Linked DNA regions of Homo sapiens. The protein of the gene in region 4 purifies or fractionates together with the protein of the main gene of each other region. This does not show direct contact. Each region holds a gene or a part of one and is shown on either strand. Other genes may lie near its edges.

The links.
Region 1: the proteins of SHTN1 (region 4) and SMS fractionate together in Homo sapiens (co-fractionation; one large-scale study listed by BioGRID). This does not show direct contact.
Region 2: the proteins of SHTN1 (region 4) and TPM4 fractionate together in Homo sapiens (co-fractionation; one large-scale study listed by BioGRID). This does not show direct contact.
Region 3: the proteins of SHTN1 (region 4) and CAP1 fractionate together in Homo sapiens (co-fractionation; one large-scale study listed by BioGRID). This does not show direct contact.
Region 5: the proteins of SHTN1 (region 4) and COLGALT1 fractionate together in Homo sapiens (co-fractionation; one large-scale study listed by BioGRID). This does not show direct contact.
Region 6: the proteins of SHTN1 (region 4) and UNK fractionate together in Homo sapiens (co-fractionation; one large-scale study listed by BioGRID). This does not show direct contact.
Region 7: the proteins of SHTN1 (region 4) and RRM1 fractionate together in Homo sapiens (co-fractionation; one large-scale study listed by BioGRID). This does not show direct contact.

What each region holds. Positions count from the first base shown.
Region 1 is NC_000023.11:21,947,209-21,950,708, forward strand, and holds part of SMS (spermine synthase), read left to right. Parts: intron 1-3,500. UniProt on the Homo sapiens protein: Catalyzes the production of spermine from spermidine and decarboxylated S-adenosylmethionine (dcSAM).
Region 2 is NC_000019.10:16,089,995-16,093,494, reverse strand, and holds part of TPM4 (tropomyosin alpha-4 chain), read right to left. Parts: intron 1-3,500. UniProt on the Homo sapiens protein: Binds to actin filaments in muscle and non-muscle cells. Plays a central role, in association with the troponin complex, in the calcium dependent regulation of vertebrate striated muscle contraction.
Region 3 is NC_000001.11:40,043,729-40,047,228, reverse strand, and holds part of CAP1 (adenylyl cyclase-associated protein 1), read right to left. Parts: intron 1-3,500. UniProt on the Homo sapiens protein: Directly regulates filament dynamics and has been implicated in a number of complex developmental and morphological processes, including mRNA localization and the establishment of cell polarity.
Region 4 is NC_000010.11:116,928,688-116,932,187, reverse strand, and holds part of SHTN1 (shootin-1), read left to right. Parts: intron 1-2,185; coding exon 2,186-2,339; intron 2,340-3,500. UniProt on the Homo sapiens protein: Involved in the generation of internal asymmetric signals required for neuronal polarization and neurite outgrowth.
Region 5 is NC_000019.10:17,572,649-17,576,148, forward strand, and holds part of COLGALT1 (procollagen galactosyltransferase 1 precursor), read left to right. Parts: intron 1-3,500. UniProt on the Homo sapiens protein: Beta-galactosyltransferase that transfers beta-galactose to hydroxylysine residues of type I collagen. By acting on collagen glycosylation, facilitates the formation of collagen triple helix. Also involved in the biosynthesis of collagen type IV.
Region 6 is NC_000017.11:75,819,306-75,822,805, forward strand, and holds part of UNK (RING finger protein unkempt homolog), read left to right. Parts: intron 1-378; coding exon 379-480; intron 481-614; coding exon 615-803; intron 804-3,171; coding exon 3,172-3,353; intron 3,354-3,500. UniProt on the Homo sapiens protein: Sequence-specific RNA-binding protein which plays an important role in the establishment and maintenance of the early morphology of cortical neurons during embryonic development.
Region 7 is NC_000011.10:4,101,299-4,104,798, forward strand, and holds part of RRM1 (ribonucleoside-diphosphate reductase large subunit), read left to right. Parts: intron 1-694; coding exon 695-783; intron 784-3,500. UniProt on the Homo sapiens protein: Provides the precursors necessary for DNA synthesis. Catalyzes the biosynthesis of deoxyribonucleotides from the corresponding ribonucleotides.

The DNA.
Region 1 (3,500 bases), on a different chromosome or scaffold from region 4:
TTATTATCCTGTCCCACTACACTTTAATCCCCCATTGTGATAACACCGCAGGCACAGACGCTGTTGCTTTAACAATGCAGCCTTTCGGGGCTGATGACTGGGAGTGGGGAATGCATGCTTGGGCCCTACTCTACACGGACTGAATCACAGTTGGTGGAGGGGGGTGAGTTCCTGGATTTTGCATTTTTAATCATCTGCCTCACAGTAATTCTGTTGCTGATTAAAGTATGAGAACTCCTCTAGTAGGTTCCTTATTTAAAACAACAACAACAAAAACTTGTCTGAAACCTTTGGCACACCTACCTCACTCAGCCCAACCAGTCAGCCTAGTCAGTCTCATTAAGTCCTGTGGCTTCTGCCTGCCAATGTTCTCAAATTTGTTGCTCATCACCTGTTCCTTACTTTAGTTTCCTGGCTACAGTCTCCCCATTTGTCTCCGTTTGGGGATGGGCCCGATCATTAGGAACTCAACAGGATCCCTGTCCCTTTTCCCATTTAAAAACTCTTCCGTGGGTCCCTATTACCCCATGGATGAAGTCTAAACTCTGTATCAACACATACAAGGTCAATTTCTACCCGGTTTTTCCTCTTCCCCCAGTATATTCCTTGTGCTTCCCGGTAGCCAGGAAGCACCTGGACTCAGGATTTGACAGCTTTGGAGAAGACTTTTTTGTGTGCTTTACATAGGAATTCTCATGCGTTAATTGTGTTTGAAAATATTTTATGGGCTGCTTCCGGGAGATCCCTTGTTGGCATTGCCTTCCTTTGGCATGCGCTTTTGCTTTGTGATTTTTTTTTTAAATGCTCTTTTCCCAACTCTGCAAAAGATTCTTAATTGCACAGGTTATGCTCTATATGACTCCAGGCTGAATAACCTCATGTTGCCGGGAATTAGTTTTGTGGGCTTGCCATTAAAAAATTGAGTAAACCACAATGATTCTTTTTAGATTGTAGTTTCCAAGTTATACCGATTTCCTTAAACCTATGGAGGTAGCATATGGTAAGATTTTAGTTTCTACTTCATATCTGTAATCCTCATCTAGTTCTCATTGGGTAGTTCAGTATTTAAAATGCTTTGGAAGGGATGACAGCTGTTTAAGAAATTGACTCCATAATCAAGGCGCTAGGAGTGACCCCCATCCTGGCTAACAAGAGAGGGGTACTTTTTCAAGTAATCTGAAGCCCCGCATGAGACATTCTAATTTAATAACCAGTAGTCAGTCAATGTGTCTTTTTTTTTTTTTTTTTAAGAAAGTCACTTTTGCATTTGCAGTGGAGGAGTTACCAATTGGGAATCTTCTCATCCCCTTAGTATGTAATTTACTCCGTTTTGTTTGAATTGGTAGTTTCAGGCCTTAGCTACCTTCTCAGGAGATAAAGATTAAAATGCTGTGTTCTCTAATAGCTTTAAAAAGTTAGAGCTTTTGATTTTGGATTTCATACCCAGAAGATTGGAGATTATGGGCTTTATAATTGCGATCACCATGGTTATGCTAACCTTTCACAGATAAGGATTAGTTATAAAGTTACTAGCATCTGTTTAAAAACGTCAATAAAGTTCTTAGTTTAGTTTTTGGAGTCTGCATATTCCAGGTGTTTTAATTCACTATTTCACTGCAGTTGTAACCTAAGCCTGCTGGTGTGCACTGTGGCTCCGACCACCATTTCATGGTATAGACTCAGTTCTTTTGAAAAGTCAGAAAACCTCCTCAATTGAATCTGCGAACCACGTATGTAAACCATGCACAAATGCTCTTTAAAACCCTTACAGCTAGGCACTTTTCCAGACCCCAGGAAAAACAACCCTGCGGCCCTGAGGTGTGGTGGGCCTGGGTTTCATTAAATTGACACTGTCATCTGTGTTCCGGAAGGAGCCACCGAGCTAGCTAGTGGTGATACTGGTGATAAATGTGTTTACGTGCTAAGCCACAGATTCAAAAGGAGCTGGTAAGAGCCAGTAGCATGTTCTAGATTCCTGAACTGACTTGACTCTGGGTAGTTTTACACACACCTTAATTTTTCCCTCTCCATGAAGGTGCTAATGATACTAAAATCCCACACACTGTGTCGTTGGGTGGAATGTCCAATAAAATGTTTGGAAGAGTATCAAATGATACATAAAATACCTAACACTAATTGCAATACTTAGGGCAGAGTACTTTGAAATTGTGCCAGTGGATAAAGATGCTCAGTTATAAAGAGGTGTGAATTTAACTTACTTGAAGGGTAACGAAAGCTCTGCTGGCAAGAGAAGAGGCAGAAAATAATGGGTTGCCCTGTGTTTTGAAGGTTGGTCTACTTTATTTAAAGGGCTTCCTCCCTAAGTGATTAAAGCAGAATTTTAAAAGGACACTTTGATTTAAGATATCAATTACTTGTGTTGCATGACTCCATTTTTTTTCATAAATGAAAATTTCTCCAGTGAGAATCCTGAGCAATTCCTAGAACACTGCTGTATTTAATTCTGAATTCTCCCTTCTAGAAGGACTGTAGATCACAGTGTTCAAACAAGACTTATGTGCCTGTGGGCATTCCAAATTCCTTTGCTGGCCTTACAGTGCAGAGGTGAATATAGAACTGTTCCTCAATCCTTTTTCTTAGAGTACAGGTTGAGCATCCCTAATCCGAAATGCTCCAAAATCTGAAACTTTGAGCACCGACATAACACAAAAAAATGCTGATTCGGGATTTCCAGATTAGGGACTTTGAGTCAGTGAGTGTGATGCAGATATTCCAAAGTGGAAAAAAAAAAAAATCCAAAACACTTTCGGTCCCAAGCATTTTGGATAAAGGATATTCAACGTGTATTTTCAGGGCCAGTGCCTTGGATCATGCTTTGGAAAACAGTAGTGGCATAGTTTTTTGTTTTTGTTTTTCAAAGATGGGGTCTTGCTGTGTTGCTCAGACTGATTTCGAGCTCCTGGACTCAAGGGATCCTCCAGCCTGAGACTCCTGAGTCACTAATGTTACTGGTGCACACTGCAGTACCTGGCTGAAGTTTTATAAATGGCTTAACACTGAATCTTTTAACTGTATAAGGCAGTAGCTAAGTGGCCCAGTTGCATGTGGAATTTTGAGGAAGATGGTCATGGGTTTCTCAGTCCAAGTGTTTGTTCCTACGTGGGGGTTTGTCTAATTTGGAGCTGGAGGCTTGATGTTGAGAAGAGAGAGGAAAGAGCTTACTATTAACTCCCTTTGGTATGAGATGCAAGAATATGACAGGACTTTTTTTTTTTTTTTTTTTTTAATTTGAGTTCTGGGATGCAGTACAGAACGTGCAGGTTTGTTACATAGGTATACATGTGCCATCGTGGTCTGCTATACCTATCAACCTGTCATCTAGGTTTTAGACCCTGCATGCATTTGTCCTAATGCTCTCCCTCCCCTTGCCCCCCACCCCCTGACAGGCCCAGGTGTATGATGTTCCCTTCCCTGTGTTCATGTGTTCTCATTGTTGGGCTCCCACTTATGAGTGAGAACATGTGGTGTTTGGTTTTCTG
Region 2 (3,500 bases), on a different chromosome or scaffold from region 4:
CAGCCAGGCATGGTGGCTCATGCCTGGAATCCTGGCACTTTGGGAGCCTGAGGCTGGTGGATCACAAGGTCAGGAGTTCGAGACCAGCCTGGCCAACATGGTGAAACCCCGTCTCTACTAAAAATACAAAAATTAGCCAGGCTTGGTGGCATGCAGCTGTAGTCCCAGCTACTGGGGAGGATGAGGCAGAAGACTCACTCGAACCTGGGAGGTGGAGGTTGCAGTGAGCCGAGATCACGCCACTGCACTCCAGCCTGGGTGACAGAGTAAGACTCCATCTCAAAAAAACAAACAACAACAACAACAAAAACAAAAAAAAAACAGAAAGAAAGAAAAGGAGGGCTGGGTGTGGTGGCTCTCACCTGTGATTCCAGTGTTTTGGGGGACCATGGTGGGAGAATTACTTGAGCCCAGGAATTTGAGACCAACCTGGGTCACATAGTGAGACCCCGTCTCTACAAAGAATTTAAAAATTAGCCAGTCATGGTGGTGAGCACCTGTAGTCCCAGCTAATGGGGACGCTGAGGAGGGAAGATGGCTTGAACCCTGGAATTCAAGGCTGCAGAGAGCTCTGATTGGACCACTACACTCTAGCCTGGGCAACAGGGCAGGACCCCATCTCAAAAAAAAGGAGGAAGAAGCATAAAAAGAAGTAAGCAGGCCAGGCACGGTGGCTCACGCCTGTAATCCCAGTACTCTGGGAGGCCAAGGCGGGTGGATCGCTTGAGGTCAGGAGTTCGAGACCAGCCTGGCCAACATGGCGAAACGCTGTCTTTACTAAAAATACAAAAATTAGCCAGGTGTGGTGGTGGGTGCCTGTAATCTCAGCTACTCAGGAGGCTAAGGCATGAGAATTGCTTAAACCCAGGAGGTGGAGGCTGTAGTGAGGCCAGATGGCGCCACCGCACTCCAGCCTGGGGCGATGGAGTGAGACTCCATCTCAAAAAGAAAAAAAAAAAAAAGTAGGCAGAGTAGAGGCAGGCACCTTTCCCCAGCAGAAGAAATATGTGTGAAATGTGGAGGATGTTGGGGAGAGTCCTGTAGGATGGTATTGATCAGAAGGCCTAAACTGAGAACTTGAGATAAAAAGTATGGCGAAGAAAGGGAGATAACTGGGAATCTGTTACTCAAGGCCCCCTCTGTATTTCCAACCCCATTCTCCACCACCTTCCCCAGGGTGACAGGCACTCCCTGATCATAATCTGTGGACTCCTGAGTCCCAGTCCCTGTCCATGAATGCACCCCTTAGCATGGAATGTTCCCCTCCCCATGATGACCCATCAGAAATTATACTTTTCTTTTCTTTTTTTTTTTTTTCAGACAGAATCTTGCTCTGTCACCCAGGCTGGAGTGCAGTGGTACGATCTCGGCTCACTGTGACTTGCAACTTCTGCCTCCCAGGCTGAAGCAATTCCCCTGACTCAGCCTCCCAAGTAGCTGGGCCTACAGGCGCCCACCACCATGCCCAGCTAATTTTTGTTATTTTTAGCAGAGATGGGGTTTCGCTACGATGGCCAGCCAGGCTGCTCTCGAACTCCTGACCTCAGGTGATCCGCCTGCCTCGGCCTCCCAATAATAACTAACACTTATTAGCTGCTTACCATGGGCCAGACATAGTTAATGGCATCACAGCCTGGTATCTGTAATCCCATTTTATAGGGGAGGAAAGGGTCACAGAAAGGTGAAGTTATTATTTTGCCTAGGGTCACATGGCTATTAAGTGATCAAGTCATGACTGAAGCCTGACTCTGGAGTGCAGTGGGGCAATCTTGGCTCAATGCAACCTCCGCCCTCCAGGCTCAAGTGATCCTCTCACCTCAGCCTCCCAAGTAGCTAGGATCACAAGCATGCACCACCATGCCCAGCTAGTTTTTGTATTTTTGGTAGAGACGGGATCTCTCCATGTTGCCCAGGCTGGTCTCGAACTTCTGAGCTCAAGCGATCCTCCCGCCTCGGCTTCCTAAAGTGCTGGAATTACAGGCATGAGCCACCGTGCTGGACCTACAGCTGTTTTAAATGTCGCCTCCTTGGTGACACCGTTCACAACCTACCAAGGTCCCTCTATTGTATTCCCAAAGCACTCTGTGACTTTGTCAATCCCTTCCACTAGACTCGACTCTGAGCTCTTCAAGAGCAGATGCCAGGCTGGGCACAGTGGCTCACACCTGTAATCCCAGCCCTTTGGGAGGCCGAGGTGGGTGGATCACTTGAGGTCAGGAGTTTGAGACGAGCCTGGCCAACATGGTGAAACTCCGTCTCTACTAAAAATACAAAAATTAGCTGGGCGTGGTGTGTGCGCCTGTATTCCCAGTTACTCAGGAGGCTGAGGCAGGAGAATTGCTTGAGCCTAGGAGGTGGAGGTTGCAGTGAGCTGAGATCGTGCCTCTGCACTCCAGCCTGGGCGACAGAGCAAGGCTCCATCTCAAAACAAAACAAAACAAAGCAGCTGAGGTATTAGTGGTGTTACATCTATCCCCCTGGCCCGGGGCAGTGTCTGGCATACACACACCAACTGGATTCATTCCTTACACATCCTAGTATCAGATATATGCCAGGGCTGGCACATATGGGAGACAGAGGCAGGTGGATCACTCGAGGCCAGGAGTTTGAGATCAGCCTGGGCAACATGGTGAAACACCATCTCTACTAAAAAAAAAAAAAAAAAAAAAATTACACACACACACTACAGATATATGCCAGGCACAATGCTAGTACTAGGGACACAACTCTGAACAAGATGACATGGTTCCTGTCCTTACAACTTACAATCTAGCAAGGAAGGCATGCAATTAATGGAGTAACTATAATAAATGTAAGAAATCATAATGCCAGCAAAAGTATAGACAGGGCTACACAGCAGAGAAATACCTAACCTAGATGAGAAATCAGAGAAGGACTCTCAGAAGTGATGTTTAAGCAGAAGCTCAAAGGATGAACAGGAGGCCAGGCTCGGCGGCCTCCCAAAGTAATCCCAGCACTTTGGGAGGCCAAGGTGGGAGGATCACTTGAGGCCAGGAGTTCAAGACCAGCCTGGCCAACATGATGAAACCTTGTCTCTACCAAAAACTAGAAAAATTAGCCAGGCACGGTGGCCCACGCCTGTAATCCCAGCACTTTGGGAGGCTAAGGTGGGAGGATCACTTGAGGCCAGGAGTTTAAGACCAGCCTAGGCAACATAGACTGTGCTCTATAAAAAAAAAAAAAAAAATACAGTTTTGGAGTAGTGGCACATGCCTGCAAGTCCTAGCTACTCAGGAAGCTGAGGTGATAGGATTATTTAAGCCCAGGAGTTTGGGGCCTGCAGTGAGCTATGATCACGCCACTACACTTCCAGCCTAAGCAACAGAGCAAGATCTCATCTCTAGGCCAGGTGCAGTGGGTCATGCCTGTAATCCCAGCACTTTGGGAGGGCGAGGCGGGCAGATCACTTGAGATCAGGAGTTCGAGACCAGCCTGGCCAATGTGGTGAAACCTCATCTCTACCAAAAATTATAAAAATT
Region 3 (3,500 bases), on a different chromosome or scaffold from region 4:
GAAACTACAGTCATGCATTACATAATGACATTTTGGTCAATGGATGGACCACAAAATCAACAGTGGTCCCATAAGATTATATGGGATTATATGGGGATTAATCAACACAAAATCCCATAAGATTATAATACCCTATTTTTACTGTACTTTAAAAATGTGGCCGGGCGCGATGGCTCATGCCTGTAATCCCAGCACTTTGGGAGGCCAAGGCTAGCAGAACACAAGGTCAGGAGTTTGAGACCAGCCTGGCCAATATAGTTAAACCCCATCTCTACTAAAAATACAAAAATTAGCTGGGCGTGGTGGTGCGCACCTGTAGTACCAGCTACTCAGGAGGCTGAGGCAGAAGAATTGCTTGAACCCAGGAGGCGGGGGTTGCAGTGAGCCAAGATCGTGCCACTGCACTCCAGCCTGGGCGACAGAGTGAGACTCCGTCTCAAAAAAAAAAAAAAAAAGTTTAAATAAACAAATACTTACACTGTGTTACAAACTGCCTACAGTATTAGATACAGTAACATACTATACAGGTTTGTAGCCCAGGAGTAATAAGTTACACCATGTGCAGTATCATCTAAATTTGTGCAAGTACACTCTATGATGTTCCCACAATGATGAAATCACCTAATGACAAATTTCTCAGAATGTACCTGTCATTAAGCAACACATGACTGTATAATTTTATCAACTAAAATAAATGTGAATAACTCCATAAACTATATGCAACTTTAGTGTTTGTTTGTTTTTTTTTGTTTTGTTTTGTTTTTTTGAGACGGAGTCTTGCTCTGTCACCCAAGCTGGCGCAGATCATGCAGTGGCACGATCTTAGCTCACTGCAACCTCCACCTCCCCGGGTTCAAGTGATTCTCCTGCCTCAGCCTCCCTAGTAGTTGGGATTACGGTACATGCCACCACACCCAGCAAATTTTTGTAATTTTAGTAGGGACGGGGTTTTACCATGTTGGCCAGGCTGGTCTCGAACTCCTGACCTCAGGTGATCCACCCGCCTTGGCCTCCCAAAATGCTGGGATTACAGGCGTGAATCACCACGCCCAGCCTATATGCAACTTTAAAATAAATGATAGTCCCTGTCCACTAAAACCAAGCACTCTAAATACAAGGAACACAAACAAAACAGGAATTCACACAATTTTCAATAGAGAGGGAAATCTGCTGACTTACACCATCAACAAGAAGCTTGCTTCTAGTACTCAAACCAATGGCACTTCTCTTAAGATCACATCTGCCAGGTGTGGTGGCTCATGCCTGTAATCCCAGTGACTCAGGAGACTGAGGCCAGAGAATCACCTGAGGCCAGGGGTTTAAGACCAGCCCAGGCAACATAGCAAGACCCTGTCTCTGAAAAAAATCAAACATTTGGCCGAGCGCATGGTGGCTCATGCCTGTAATCCCAGCACTTTGAGAGGCTGAGGTGGGTGGTTCCCTTGAGGAGTTCGAGACCAGCCTGGCCAACATGGCAAAACCCTGTCCCTACTAAAAATACAAAAATTAGCTGAGTGTGGTGGTGTGTGCCTCTAGTCCCAGCTACTCAGGAGGCTGAGGCAGGAGAACTGCTTGAACCCGGGAGGGGGAGGTTGCAGTGAGCCAAGATCACGCCACTGCACTCCAGCCTGGGCGACCGAGCAAAACTCCATCTCAAAAAAACAAAAAACAAAAGAAAGAAAAAGAACTGTAGTCCCAGCTACTCAGGAGGCTGAAGCGAGAAGATTACTTGAGCCCAAAAGTTGGAGGTTGCAATCAGCCATGATTGCACCATTGTACTCCAACCTGCCCACCCAGAAATTCCTTGAAGGAACAGTAATTTCTTGAAGCTTCAACAGAAACAAATGATTCATTCATTGTAGGATACTGAGTGCTTATCATGTACCATCGACTGTGCTAAGTATGGCTATGGGGCCTGCCCTCACAGAATTTAGTTGGGGACATTGTACAATCATAGCTACGATACTTTCTAACGCAGCAATTCTCAACCAGGGGCAATTTTGTCCTCCAGGAGACATATGGCAATGTCTGAAGACATTTTTGGTTGTCACAACTGAGGAAGTCTTATTGGCATCTACTGGGTAGAGACAGATGCTGCTTAACATCCCACAGTGCACAGGACAACTCCATAATAAAGAATTATATGGCCAGGCGCGGTGGCTCACACCTGTAATCCCAGCACCTTGGGAGGCCGAGGCGAGCAGATCACGAGATCAGGAGATCAAGACCACAGTGAAACCCCGTCTATACTAAAAATACAAAAAATTAGCTGGGCCTGGTGGCGGGCGCCTGTAGTCCCAGCTACTCGGGAGGCTGAAGCAGGTGAATGGCGTGAACCCGGGAGGCTGAGCTTGCAGTGAGCCGAGATTGTGCCACTGCACTCCAGCCTGGGTGACAGATAGAGACTCTGTCTCAAAAAAAAAAAAAAAAAAAAAAAAAAGAATTATATGGCCCAAAATGTCAATTGTGCCAACGTTGAGAAACCCTGTTCTAATTTAATAAGGAGCATAGGGAGGTGCAAAAGGTTAAGTAAAATGCTAGTTCACGACTTTCTAAATTAGAAAGTCAACCTGTATCATCTAATAAAAATTAAGATAAGGGTCTAAACTGTAGAGAATTCTGTAAGATGGAAAAAAGAGTTCAGAATTTATTCTTTGTAAATATGAAGTCAGTGAAGACTAACAAGATGAAAAATGCTTCTTCTTAGAGAACTTTAAAAAGATTTGTCTGGTTGTCATAGAGAAACTGAAGTATAGGTCATGAAAGCCAGGTTAGCACAAATAAAGAAAGAAACTGATGTCAACATTTCAAAGTAATAATCACTAAAATTGGGTAAGATACCGCTCGAGAACTCTCATATTTCAAATCTCAGCATTAAATTTCAAACCAGAGGTTCGGCTTCCAGTGACACATTGCATTTGCTTAAGTAAAAAAAAATTTGATTCACAATGCTTCACAAAAAACTGAAAGGAGGAAGTCACCTTTTTTTTTTCTGGTAGAGACAGGGGTCTCACTATGTTGACCAGGCTAGTCTCTAACTCAGCCTCAAGAAAGTCACTTTTTAAAAGCTAAAAAAATAACTGCAACCAGGAAAAAGGGTGAGAATAAAAGATCATCCCTAGGTTGGAAACAAAACATTTTACAGACTCAATAGCTAAACTCCAAAGCAAAAATATACTCACTGAATCTTAACAATATCACCACTTTTGGTTTGCACATCAGGCTGTATTCTACAAAGTACTTTTGCTGCTACCATTTTATTTAAACTTCTCTGAGATATCAATTATGCCTACCCAATTGAGGAAGTATTTCTGGAAAAAGCGAGAAATTTCTTTTTTCTTTTCTTTTTTTTTTGAGACAGAGTCTCACTATCACCCAGGCTGGAGTGCAGCAGTGCAATCTCAGCTCACTGCAACCTCCGCCTCCCGGGTTCAAGCGAGTCTCCTGCCTCAGCCTCCCAAGTAGCTGGGACTACAGGCATGCACAACCACGCCCAGCTA
Region 4 (3,500 bases):
TATTTACTCGCATGATCATGTGACTGATTGGGAGCTGTGGCTGGCTGCCGCTGCAGAGGATTGTTGAGAGAGTATCTTATTACATATTGCGAGCCTGGGAAAAGATCAAAATCCAGAATTTGAAGTATGGTTTGTATTGAATGCATGTCGCTTTCACACCATTGTAAAGTCGAAAAACTATCTCAAACCATCCTAAATTGGGGACCATCTGTATGTCGCTTAAAATGTTTCTTAGCTGTCTGTAAGTTCCCTTGCAGATGCAGCAGTCTTTTAAGCACAGCATATGGTTTTTGCAATTATAAAAATAGCATATGCTCCTTATAATACATTTTTAAAATACAGCAAAAGTTAAAGAAGATTAACCAAGTATCCCATATTTTGGTGCATAGCTGAACTTTCTGTAAATATATACCTTTATAAATATAGTTTGTTTAAATTGAATCATACTATGCATACTATTTTATGCCTTGATTTTTTTTCCATTGGTAATATATCTTCTCATGTCAGTATATAGTAAGCTATGTGATTTAAAAGTTGCATAGTATTTCATTGAATAAACATGCTATAATTTATTAAACTAAAAATATTGGTGGACATTTAGGTTATTTGCAACTTTTTGCTGTTGTAAAGAATACTTCAGGCCAGGTGTGGTGGCTCACGCCTGTAATCTCAGCACCTTGGGAGGCCAAAGCAGGTGGATCACTTAAGGCCAGGAGTTCGAAACCAGCCTGGCCAATGTGGTGAAACCCTGTCTCTACTAAAAATACAAAAATTAGCCGGGTGTGGTGACATGTGCCTGTAGCCCCAGCTACTCAGGAGGCTGAAGCACAAGAATTGTTTGAACCCAGGAGGCGAAGTTTGCAGTGAGCCCAGATCGCGCCACTGCACTCCAGCCTGGCCGAAAGAGTGAGACTCTATCTCAGAACAAAAACAAAAACAAAAACGAAACAAAACAAAAAACCACTTCAGTGAATATATTTCAGAGTATTTTAAAAAATAATTTCTAAAAATGGTTTTACTGAATCGAAAGCCTTTCCTTTTTTTTTTTTTTTGAAGACTTTTGATACTTATTACTAAATTTGTGTCCCCCAGGAGTCTTTTAAAATATTACCTGAATTTTTCTTTTGAAAATGGGTACAAAAGTGACCCATGTTTAAAAATTAAAGTGTCTGTGTGACTAACAAGCATATAAAAAATGCTTAACATCACTAATCATTAGAGAAATGAAAATCAAAACCACAATGAGATACCATCTCATGTCAGTCAGAATAGCTGTTACTAAAAAGTCAAAAAATAGCAGATGTTGGCAAGGTTTCAGAGAAATGGGACGCTTAAACACTGCTGGTGGGAATGTAAGTTAGTTCAGCCATTATGGAAGGCAGTGTGGCGATTTCTCAAAGAACTTAACACAGAAATACCATTCAACCCAACAGTCCCATTATTGGATATATGCCCAAAGGAATATAAATCATTCTACCATAAAGACACGTGCACACATATTCATCGCAGCACTATATGCAACAGCAAAGTCATGGAGTCAACCTCAATGCCCATCCGTGGTAGACTGGATAAAGAAAATCTGGTACATATTACACCATGGAATACGGTGTAGCCATAAAAAGGAATGAGATAATGTCCTTTGTAGCAACATGAATGGAACTGGAGGCCATAATCCTAAGTGAACTAACATGGGAATAGAAAACCAAATGTTCTCACTTCTAAGTGGGAGCTAAGCATTGATTACACACGGACACAAAGAAGGGAACAACAGACACTGGGGCTTACTTGATGATGGAGGGTGGGAGGAGAGAGAGGATCGAAAAAGTATCTATCAGGTACTATTCTTTTTACCTTGGTGATGAAACAACCTGTACACCAAGCCCCTGTGACACACAATTTACCTATATAACAACCATGCACATGTACCCCGAACCTAAAATAAAACTTAAAAAAAATTAAAGTGTCTGGTACGTAACTCCCCAGTAAATTTATTTTAAATCAGCTCTTTAGCTGATTTATGATTGTGTGTTAATTGTATCTAGCATTTGCATGGTTGTTAAGATGGATTGGAATCTGTTTGCTATGAAGTACAGTCAAAGGGAAATATTTATTTTTTCCCTTTCTTTTCTTTGACAAAGGAAAAACTGTCAGCCATAAAAGTCTTTTTTTTTTAAATAACTTATAGGTCAAAGAATTAGAAGAGCAACTAGAAAATGAAACACTCCACAAAGAAATACACAACCTCAAACAGCAACTGGAGCTTCTAGAGGAAGATAAAAAGGAATTGGAATTGAAATATCAGAATTCTGAAGAGAAAGCCAGAAATTTAAAGCACTCTGGTAAAAGCATTGAGTAGGCTACTATGTCTTACTATTAATCTTTGAATTACTCATGCCTAGTACAAAACCTGGCATATAGTTAGTCTAGAACATTTACTGAATGCTGTGGAAAAATACCAAGATTTGTTTTGAAATTCCTTAATTTCTAACCATTGCAATTCAGTAGAATAGCTGCTGTATTAAATAATTCAAAAATATTTAGACTAATTTTTTGGACTTAGAGCCCTTGTGAACATCATATACAGAATTTAGACACAGAGATACCGTTAGCCTAGGAAGACCAACTTTTCAGCATTTTTCAGAGCTTCAGAGATGAATGTTCATTATGTACTTTATTTTGTTCACTTAGAGTGCATTTTTAGAAAGAATTAAACTTTTTAAAAATACTGTCTTCATCTTTGGTGTTCATACTACCTTCATCTTTGGTGTCTAATAATACACATGAAATAATACTTTCTATATTGTACCTAACAATGAACTGGGCAACAATATATCTATTAAATGGAAAATCTTTAGAAACACCAGGGGATACTTAAATCAAAAGATTTATTCATTCAGTTCTAGAAGGCTTAACGGGAATGTGCGAGTTAGATTACTATACGGGCATATGTGTAAGTCTCTGTTGGAAGGTCGGTAATTTAAGAAGTCAGGTACATTCCCTTTATAATAGCTTCAATATTCACTTCAGATATTTTTGGTTAATTTTATACTAGAATTTTGAAACCTATGCAGAAGAACCATGTAGGCCTTTTTTCCTTCTAAAAGCATTCAGTGCTTTCTAATCCACAATGAAAATTGATTATAATTTATTTTTTAATTGATCCAAAATTAAGAAGTATTTCATTCTTTTTAGTGAATATCAGAGTAGCCTGTAGCCAAAGCCATCTTTATTATGAATAGAGGAGGCAGACACTGGAAATATATAAGGTTCAAATCTGAATGCCTTCTATTAATACTTATTATCTGCTGTGTGTGTACCCAGCCCTATCCTAGGAAACAATAAGAAATACAGAAGAAAAGAAACCATGCTTTTTGTCTTCAGAGAACTCAGATTCCCCTTGGAGGGATAGGTGCATGCACATAAAAAGACTAGAGGATTCTCAGTTTTGGAGAGCATAGCCCACACTGCCTATTTAAGTGTTGAGGGTAAATACAAATGGA
Region 5 (3,500 bases), on a different chromosome or scaffold from region 4:
TTTCACTGATGTCTCAAATCCGTCCCATGAGCACTGACTGAGTGCCAGGCAGATGCAAGTCCCTGTGGGGGGTGCTGGGTGCAACGGCACGTGTGAACGAGGTGGAGGGTTGTGTCTGCTCTCACAGAGTGCTGGTTTGCAGGTAGCTGTACACAGCATGCTTGGGGTTGTCGGGTGGGCTTCCTGGAGGAGGTGGCATTAAGGGGCAGGTTGAGTAGGAGTTCACCATAAAGGGGATTGCAGCAGGAGGTGGTAGTGTGGGCAAAGGCCGGGAGGCTGGAAGGGACGTGAACCTGGGGAACAGGCAAGGTCAGTGATCCCCTGGGGCTGGTATCCAGGGCCAGGGTGGATGGCCTCAGAGACCAGGCTGAGGAAGGGACCTTCCCCCTGAGGACAGTCAGGAGCTATAGAGGACATGAAAACTGAGAGGACAGCAAGTTTTCACTAAAGAACTGCATGTATAGGCCAGGCATGGTGACTCAAACCTGTAATTCCAGCACTTTGGGAGGCCAAAGTAAGAGGATTGCTTGAGCCTAGGAGTTCAAGATCAGCCTGGGCAACATAGTGAGACCCCATCTCTATATTAAAAAAAATTTTGGCCGGGTGCGGTGGCTCATGCCTGTAATCCTAACACTTCGGGAGGACGAGACGGGCGGATCACAAGGTCAAAAGATGGAGACCATACTGACCAACATGGTGAAACCCTGTCTCTACTAAAAATACAAAAAAAATTAGCTGGGTGTGGTAGCGAATGCCTATAGTCCCAGCTACTTGGGAGGCTGAGGCAGGAGAATCACTTGAACCTGGGAGGCGGAGGTTGCAGTGAGCCGAGATCGTGCCACTGCACTTCAGCCTGGCAACAGAGTGAAACTCCGTCTCAAAAAAAAAAATTTTTTTTTAATTAGTCCGACATGGTGGCACATGCCTGTATTCTAGCTACTCAGGAGGCTGAGGTGGGAGAATCCTTTGAGCCCAGGAGTTGGAGGCCGCAGTGAGCCATAATCGTGCCACTGCACTACAGCCTGGGCAATAGAGTAAGTCTGTCTCAAAAATAATAATAATAAAAAATAATTATCCCAGCTCTTTGGGAGGCCAAGGTGGGCGGATCCCTGGAACCCAGTAGTTTGAGAATATCGTGGGCAACATGGTGAAACCTTGTCTTTACCAAAAAAAAATAACAAAAATTAGCCAGGCGTGATGGCACACACCTGTGGTCCCAGCTACTCGGGAGGCTGAGGCGAGAGGATCCCTTGAGCCCAGGAGGTCGAAGCTGCAGTGAGCCAAGATTGCTTCACTGCACTCCAGCCTGGGCAGCAGAGCCAGACCCTGTATCAATAAATAAATAAATAAAACTTTAAAAAAATCCATGAACTATGAAACCAGCAGCCGTCCCTCTAAAACTGGAGGAGCACGCAGGGCTGAGCTGTAATTGAGGTTGTCTAGGGATGATGCTCCCATCTCAGCCATTGCTAATGTGGGCCTCGCCCTGCACTGGGCGCAGAAAGCCCTGCCAAAGCCACTGCCATTCCCACCACTGCGTAGATGGAGACTGGGTGGGAGGGGTGAGGCCTCTGTCCCGGGGCTCAGTTTCCCCAGCCTTACCGATTTCTGAACGAGTCTATCTGCGGCTCCCCCTGGTGGCTCAAGATGGAATAGCACCCTGCCCTTTGTGTTTTGGGGAGACTTTTTTTTTTTTTTTGAGACGGTGTCTCACTTTGTCACCCAGGCTGGAATGCAGTGGCGCATTCTGGGCTCACTTGAAACCTCCGCCTCCTGGGTTCAAGCGATTCCCCTGCCTCAGCCTCCCGAGTAGTTGGGATTACAGGTACCTGCCACCACACCTGGCAAATTTTGTATTTTTAGTAGAGACGGGGTTTCACCATGTTAGCCAGGCTGGCCTCGAACTCCTGTCCTCAGGTGATCCACCTGCCTCGGCCTCCCAGAATGCTGGGATTACAGGCGTGTGTCACTGCGCCTGGCCTGGGGGAGACTTTTGAGTCTTTTTGAGGTGACACCTGGAGACTGCACAATCACTGGGGCAGGCCCCCCACAACACCCAAGAGTGGCATACTTAGGTGTCCAGGTCCCACCCGGCTACAGTTGGGGGTGGTGGGTCTCCATTTATCACCAACTCCCATCAGAAACGGGCCTGAGAAGCGTCTCTGTGGCTACCAGAGTTTTCCCAGTTTAAGTTCTCACATATATTTGTGTTGTCATTTCCTTTTTTTGAGACAGAGTCTCGCTGTTACCCAGGCTGGAATGCAGTGGCAAAATCACAGCTCACTGCAGCCTCAACCTCCTTGACTCAAGCGATCCTTCCACCTCAGCCTCCTAAGTAGCTGAGACCACAGGTGCATGCCACTACCATGCTCAGCTAATTTGTTAATTTAGGTTTTTGGTTTTTTTGGTTTTTATTTTTTTGAGATGGAGTCTTGCACTGTCGCCTGGGCTGGAGTGCAATGGTGCGATCTTGGCTCACTGCAACCTCCGCCTCCCAGGTTCAAGTGATTCTGCCCCACCTTCCCAAGTAGCTGAGTTTAACAGGCGCTTGCCACCACGCCTGGCTAATTTTTTGTATTTTTATTTTTATTATTTTTTGTTTGTTTGTTTTTTTTGAGACGGAGTCTCGCTCTGTCTCCCAGGCTGGAGTGCAGTGGCCCGATCTCGGCTCACTGCAAGCTCCGCTTCCTGGGTTCACGCCATTCTCCTGCCTCAGCCTCCCGAGTAGCTGGGACTACAGGCGCCTGCTACCACATCCGGCTAATTTTTTGTATTTTTATTGGAGATGGGGTTTCACTGTGTTAACCTGGATGGCCTCGATCTCCTGACCTTGTGAGCCACCTGCCTCGGCCTCCCAAAGTGCTGGGATTACAGGCATGAGCCACTGCGCCCAGCTAGTTTTTTGTATTTTTAGTGGGGACAGGGTTTCAGTATGTTGGCCAGGCTGGTCTCGAACTCCTGACCTCATGATCTGCCCACCTCAGCCTCCCAAAGTGCTGGGATTACAGGCATGAACCACTGTGCCCGGCCTTCTTTTTTGCTTTTTTTGGAGATGGAGTCTCTGTCACCCAGGCTGGAGTGCAGTGTCACCATCATAGCTCGCTGCAGCCTTGAACTCCTGGGCAATCCTTCTGCCTCAGCCTCCCAAGGAGCTACAGATTTCCCCTTTTAAAAGCACACAAGCCATGTGGATTAGGGCCCACCCTAATGACCTCATTTTAACTCGATGACCTCTGTACACAACCCTGTGTCCAAATAGGATCATATCCTGGGGTACTGGTGGTTGGCACTGGGGAGACACAGTTCACCCCATGACATAGTGCATGATCTCATGACATCTCTTTGTGAAACCTCTCAGTGGCTTATTGGCCCATTTTATAGATGAGGAAAGCTGAGGCCCAGGCCAATCAAGAATATACAGCATGCCATCATTTCTTGGTTCATTCTACAAGCAATTACTGAGTGCCTGCTGTGTGCCAAGCCCCTGTGTTGGGCACTAG
Region 6 (3,500 bases), on a different chromosome or scaffold from region 4:
ACCTGCTATACACCAGCCACTGAGTGCCCAGAGACCCGCCCACCCCCACTGATCCCGGGGCTGAGACCCTTGAGTTGTAACATCAGGGGACAAGACCCTTGTCCGAGGCAGGGACCCTGGATGGGGATGTGATTTCTCCTGGAAGTATCAAAGAAGATTCAGAAAGGAGAGGCATTTGGGTTGGACATGACTGGCAGACGGTGTCAGAAGTCAGGAGTCAGGATTGGCATAGGAAGCAGCTGAAGGAAGGGCACAGGGGCTTGGGAGAATACGGACCCAGCGTAGCATGGGCGTGAAGATGCAGCGTGGGCAGTAGACGAGGTGGTCAGGGTCAGATAGTCCCTCGGGAGGTCACATCCCACTCTTCTCTGTCCCTAGAGTCTGCTTTGGATGACCTGGACCTGAATGAGTTTGGCGTGGCCGCCCTGGAGAAGACTTTCGATAACAGCACAGTGCCCCACCCAGGAAGCATCACCATCGGTACTGGGTGTGGGTGGGCAGGGCAGCCTGGAGGACTCCTCGGGTTCCTGCCTGGCTCAGGCCCCTTGCTCTGTGTGGCCCGCCTGGCTTCCGCTGCCCTCACCCAGCCCGTCCTCCCCGGGCCTCTCTTGCAGGCGGCAGCTTGCTGCAGAGCTCTGCACCCGTGAACATCCCCGGCTCCTTGGGCAGCTCTGCCTCCTTCCACTCAGCATCCCCGTCCCCTCCCGTCAGCCTCTCCTCGCATTTCCTGCAGCAGCCCCAGGGCCACCTGAGTCAGTCGGAAAACACATTTTTGGGAACCTCAGCATCACATGGATCTTTGGGTAAGAGAGGGAGTGGTTCACTCAGGAGAACTGGGGCAGGAACCTGCGCCTTTAGGAGGTGCCTCTGGCCACCCCATCTACGGCATATCAGCTAGGCTGGGGGTTAGGGCAGAGGCCTTGGGCGAGGAGGCAGAGTCAGATTCCTGTCTGTGTGACCCTGGACAAGTGATTGAGCCTCTCTGCCTTAGTTTCCTCTGCTGTGAAATGGGTATAACGGCAGCATCCACCTCCTAACGTTGTGAGCATTGAATGGAGTAATGGGGCTGAAGTGCTAGGCACGAGGCCAGTGCAGGTGAGAGCAGGGGTCTCAGTTGCCAGGGCTGGGCCTGGTCTCTTTCACAGCATGGTTCTGTTCTGCCCAGTCACCCCAGGCTCCGAGAGGCTGGCTCGCACCAGCCAGGTTCACAGGGGACCAAGGGAGAAGCCAGACAGGTTAACCCCTGGCTTCGGGTGCCCTTCCTGCCGGGCAGAGGCTCCAGGGAGGCCCAGGGCTGGCCCAGAAGGCTGTTTGCCCACAGAATTAGAATGGTATGGAATGGGGGTTTCTGAGGGCACTTCAAGGTTTAGTGGCTAGAAGAATGGCACAGAGGCCTGTGCCACTGCGGGCCGGCTGTGCATCTCCTCTTGTGTGTGTCAGGGGATGTTCCTGAGGGCGGGATGGGAAGCACATGGCACCACCGCTCTCACTCTCCCCCAGCAGCTGCAGACACCAGGAGCTCCCTCCCCGAGAGTGCCAGCATTTTGCTCGGGCCCAGGGAATGAGCCCTTCAGAGTTCTGATTGGGTTTGGTGGCTTCCCTTATCTCATTCCTGATCCCAGAACAGCACATGGATTTCTCAGCGCCTTCCAGTTTGAAGAGGCTGTTCTCTGTTACGTTGATTCTGTCAGCTTTAGGTGCTTGGTGTTGCATTTTTCGGACTTGCCCCATATTCGGATAGGATCTGTTTTTTTTTTTTCGAGTAGGGTCTCAGTCTGTCACCCAGGCTGGAGTGCAGTGCAGTGGCATGATCCTAGCTCACTGCAGCCTGGAACTCCTGAGCTCAGGTAATCCTTCCACATCAGCCTCCTGAGTAGCTGGGACCACAGGCGTGCACCACCATGCCCAGCTTCTGGTGGCGTCTAGACTTAGCTCCACTTACTGGCCACACACTCCTTCCTGCACCATGTGACTATTGAGCACAGGTGTATTGATACAGGTGTAAGTGCAACAGTCCCTGCTGTCCAGCAGCTGTGGCCAGTGTGGGAAGCAGAGGTGCCCAGCCATTGGGATCCTCCTGAGAATCATAGAGGGGCCTACCTGGACAGCAGAGTCAGGAGAGCTTCTCCAAGGGAGGAGGAGAGATGGGTGGGACAGGAGAGCTTGCTGCAGGGCTGGTCTCATGTGGGTGGGGTGACCCTGAGGTCTTCCTCTGGGATGGGGCAGATGGCTCAGACAGTGCATGCCACAGGGTCTCCGCACAGGACCATGTCCCTCCTCTGTGGGTGCACTTGTGTGTCTCAGAGAGCAAAGCGTCTTAAATCTGGTTCTGGAACATCCTGGTTGGATTAGTGGGAAAGGGAGCAAGGAAGAAGTCACCAGAAAGTACATATGGGCAGAGTGAGGCCAGAGGTGGATATGGGTCCTTCTCGGAAGCCCGGGGCTGCCCTGGGGGCCAGAGCAGGGGGACCTGATGTTAGTAAACATCTGTTGAGCGAGTGAGCAGAGGGCAGCTGGGTTGGCGGTGGGTGGGAGGCTGTGCACGCAGCATAGTTGACTGGAAAGCATAGGCCTTTGGAACCACACTCCCTGTCTGTGTCCTGGCCCTACCACTTACAATTTGTGTGATTCTTGGTAAAACATTTTATCCAGGGTCCTTGTCTGTAAAACAAGGGGGATGGCCCCAAGGCTCCCTGAGCTCTTCCTGCCCCAGCTCTGCCATCCGATGAGGCTCTGGCCTGTCTTTTCCCCTTTATCTCTTCCTGGGCCTCACATCAGGCTGCAAAAAGGCCCTAGCCTAAAAGTGAAGCCACAATCATAAATTGCCACTATCGGGGGCCTGGGACTGCTCTCACATGCAGTACTTCCTGAGTCCCCTGAGTTACCCGGTGAGGCCAGTGTGGGAGTCCCATTTCCCACATGAGGGTGCTGAGCCTCGGAAGTTGAGTGGCACCAACTAGCAGGTGTCACTCAAGGTTAGGTCTGACTCCGCCCACGCCACCTGCACCTTCACAGCCTTCCTGTCCCTGCAAAATTCTCTGGCCTGACACTAGCTGGAGCCTTGCACACCCATCCAGTGGACAGCCAGTCCCTGGAACCTCTGAGGCAGGGCTGGCCAGGGCCTGGGCCCAAAGCCCTCCGGAGCTGATGTTCTTCCCCTCCTTGGGGCAGGTCTGAACGGGATGAACAGCAGCATCTGGGAGCATTTTGCCTCTGGAAGCTTCTCCCCGGGCACTTCCCCCGCTTTCCTATCAGGGCCAGGGGCTGCCGAGCTGGCCCGACTTCGGCAAGAGCTGGATGAAGCCAACAGCACCATCAAGCAGTGGGAGGAGTCCTGGAAGCAGGCCAAGCAGGTACCAGGCCCCGTGCCTGCCGGCCTTCCCCAGTGCCAGGTGGCATCCAGCCCAAGACCTTCCTTCACAGAGTGGGCGTGGGGTGGGGGAAAGCGGGGGCTGGAAGAACAGAGCAGAAACTCAGTTTTGTTCGCTCGCTCTCCCCCT
Region 7 (3,500 bases), on a different chromosome or scaffold from region 4:
GTATAGGATTCTGTGGATTTTTTTTTTTTTTTAGTTGGAGTTTCATTCTTGTTGTCCAGGCTGGAATGCAATGGCGTGATCTCAGCTCACTGCAACCTCCGCCTCCTGGGTTCAAACAATTCTCCTGCCTTAGCCTCCCGAATAGCTGGGATTATAGGCCCCTGCCACCATGCCCAGCTAATTTTTTGTATTTTTAGTAGAGACGGGGTTTCACCATATTGATCAGGCTGATCTCGAACTCCTGACCTCCAGTGATCCACACCCCCCCCCGCTCCCTTGGCCTCCCAAAGTGCTGGGATTACAGGTGTGAGCCACTAGGCCTGGCCTGTGGATTGTTATAACAATTTTGACTTTTATTCTGGAGATCATAAGCCACTATTAGGAGTTTTGAAGGAGGTAATGATATGATTCTGAGTTTAACTTTTAAAGGGTAATTTTGGCTGCCATGTGGGATGGGGGAAAAATTTAGGAAATTATCCGTAAACGTCTGTCTGTATAGAATTCATACTCTTTGAAGGTGACATCAGAGAAGACAATCTCTTCATGAATCTTTTGAGGGGGCCTCAATCTTTTCTGTGAAATAGCACTTCATGTTGGTCAATTTACATGTTAATTACATTTGATTCTTTGACATTGTAGTCTTAATAATTGCTAACATGAATTTAATAATTGCTAACATGATTTGATTCTTTAGATGGCCGCCAAGAACGAGTCATGTTTGACAAAATTACATCTCGAATCCAGAAGCTTTGTTATGGACTCAATATGGATTTTGTTGATCCTGTAAGTAAATATGGTTTTTATCTTGGGTTCCTTCTTTCATGTGTTTCTTTCCATTTGTCTCTTATCCCTGGACCTTCATTCACCTGATATACTTTGGTATTCTGGCTATGCCCTTCGATATAAAATTTGAATTCATTGCTTAAAACATTTTTTTTTCCTTAATTTTGGTTCTGTCCTGTGAGTTCTCACTTTTCAGAGAACTATGAATGTGAGTAAAGAGGAAAATTTGATATTAACATTTAATATCAGATATTTCCTTGAGTAAATTGTTTTATTCATTAGTGGAAAAGCCTAGGCCAGGCGCCGTGGCTCACGCCTGTAATCCCAGCACTTTGGGAGGCTGAGGTGGGCAGATCACCTGAGGTCAGGAGTTCAAGACCAGCCTGGCCAACATGGTGAAACCCCGTCTCTACTAAAAATGCAAAAATTAGCCGGGCCTGGTGGTGGGCGCCTGTAATCCCAGCTACTTGGGAGGCAGGAGAATCACTTGAACCTGGGAGGCAGAGGTTGCAGTGAGCCGAGATCGTGCCACTGCACTCCAGCCTGGGCGACAGAGCGAGACTCCCTCTCAAAAAAAAAAAAAAAAGGGAAGCCTAGAGTAAAGCTTGTTTTGGAATTGTGGTTATTTAGGTAGGGACTGGTTTAAAATTTGTTTTTTGTTATTTATGTAAAAAGATTTAAGTAATATAAAGTAGATTTCATGGACAATATTTAAGTCAAGAACAAACTATTCATAAACCAGTTGCTCTGCTTTTCTCCTTATCCTTTATAACTTCTGTATTCTAGACTCTCATCATCAGTTATCTGGACTGTTTTCTGTGGTCTCTGCAGTGTCCTGGACTTCCTCTAATCTTACCCTCTTCAAACTCGTCTTCCACCTGACTTCTAAAATGATCTTCCTTAAATGAGAATCTCTAAGAACTCTTTTTTTCAAATCCACCCATATTTCCGTCTCCTTATTTAGGTATCTTATCCGCACTGCTAAGGTATCTTAGGTATCTTATCCGTAAAACCTGTGCTCATCTCATAGCTTTAATCATATAGTATGGAAATTAATTATGGATCTTTGTCCTCCCCTAGAATTGAGGATGGGCTGTGTATCTTATTCTTGTGATATCCTCAGTGCTTGACATGTATCTAATTAGCCACTTGACCAAAGTAAGTTTGGTCAAGAGAAAATGATTTTATGTATCTTGAAAATATGTTTATTGTAAATTCTCTTTTATATTGAGGACTTAGGCAATAATTAGAATAGTAGAATGTTAGAGTTGGAATGAACTTAAGAGTCCATCCCATTTCATCTTTGGTTTATAGATAAGAAAGTTCCAAAGAGAGAGGGGAGTGACTTAAGTTAGTGGGAGTGTAGGGAGAAGCACCTAGGTCTCTTGACTCCTACATGTTCTATTGCCTCATGCAGTAGTACATTTTAGAGCGCAAGAATGTTGCAGCATCCTCAAACTTCCTAGGGTAGATTCTGTTGAAAAACTGTCGGTGCACATCTGTAATCCCAGCACTTTGGGAGACTGAGGTAGGCAGATTGCTTGGGCTCAGGAGTTTGAGACCAGCCTGGGCAACATGGTGAAACTGCCCAGGTGCAGTGGCTCAATCTTGGCCCACTGCAGCCTCCACCCCTGGGGATCAAATGATTCTTGTGCCTCAGCCTCCCTCAGCTGGGATTACAGGCATGTGCCACCACGCTATTTTTTTTTTTTTTTTTTTGTATTTTTAGTAGAGACAGGGTTTTGCTATGTTGGCCAGGCTCGTCTTGAACTCCTGACCTCAAGTTATCTGTCCGCCTTGGCCTCCCAAAGTGCTGGGATTACAGGTGTGAGCCACACTGTGCCTGCCCTCAACCCTGTTTCTACAAAAAAAAAAAAAAAAAAAAAATTGGTTGGGTGTGGTGGCGCATACCAGTAGTCCCAGCTACTTGGTGGTGGGAGGATCGCTTGAGCCCTGGAGGTTGAGGTTGCTGTGAGCTGAGATTGTGCCACTGTACTCCAGCACAGGCCACAGAATGAGACCCTGTCTCAAAAAGAAAAAAAGAAAAACTGTGTGCTGTTAGATCTGGCACAGTTAGCACACAGATGGTATTTTATTCTGAGTTCTAATTGTTTGCCTTATTGCTCTAGAAACTATTTAGAAGACTTCACTGCTCTTATACTGAACACACCTTATCTGCTGGATCTGGGAAGAAAGTGATCAGGAGCAACTTGGGCTTAGCTATATTATAATTAGAATAGATTGCAGACTGTTAAAATAGTTACACACGTATGTGTCTTTTTTTGAGGGGAGTATGCATTGTTCAGCTGGGAAACACATTTATTTTCTGTTGGATTAAGCGGTTTCTTAAAGATTCAATAAATAAACCACTCACAACTTAGAATTTGTTTTTCTTAAAAATGTATGCTAATACCCTGTGCATTACCTGTCTTAAAAACTGGAACTTATAATGTGGCCTTGAAAACAGTGAAATGCAGTGAGGTTTAATGGGATTGGGGCCAGAAGACTTGTATAATAATATAACCTTGGGCAAGTCTCAGTAACCTGAGCCTCAGGTTCTTCATGTAAAATAGGTATAGTAATAATCATCTCACAAAGTGATTGTGAAATGTCAGAGATTATCAAAGTTGATAATTACTTATCAACTTTGGTTGAGAATCATTTGAACCTCGGGGGCGGAGGTTGCACTTTGTAATTTGTGAAGTGCTAAAGAAAGT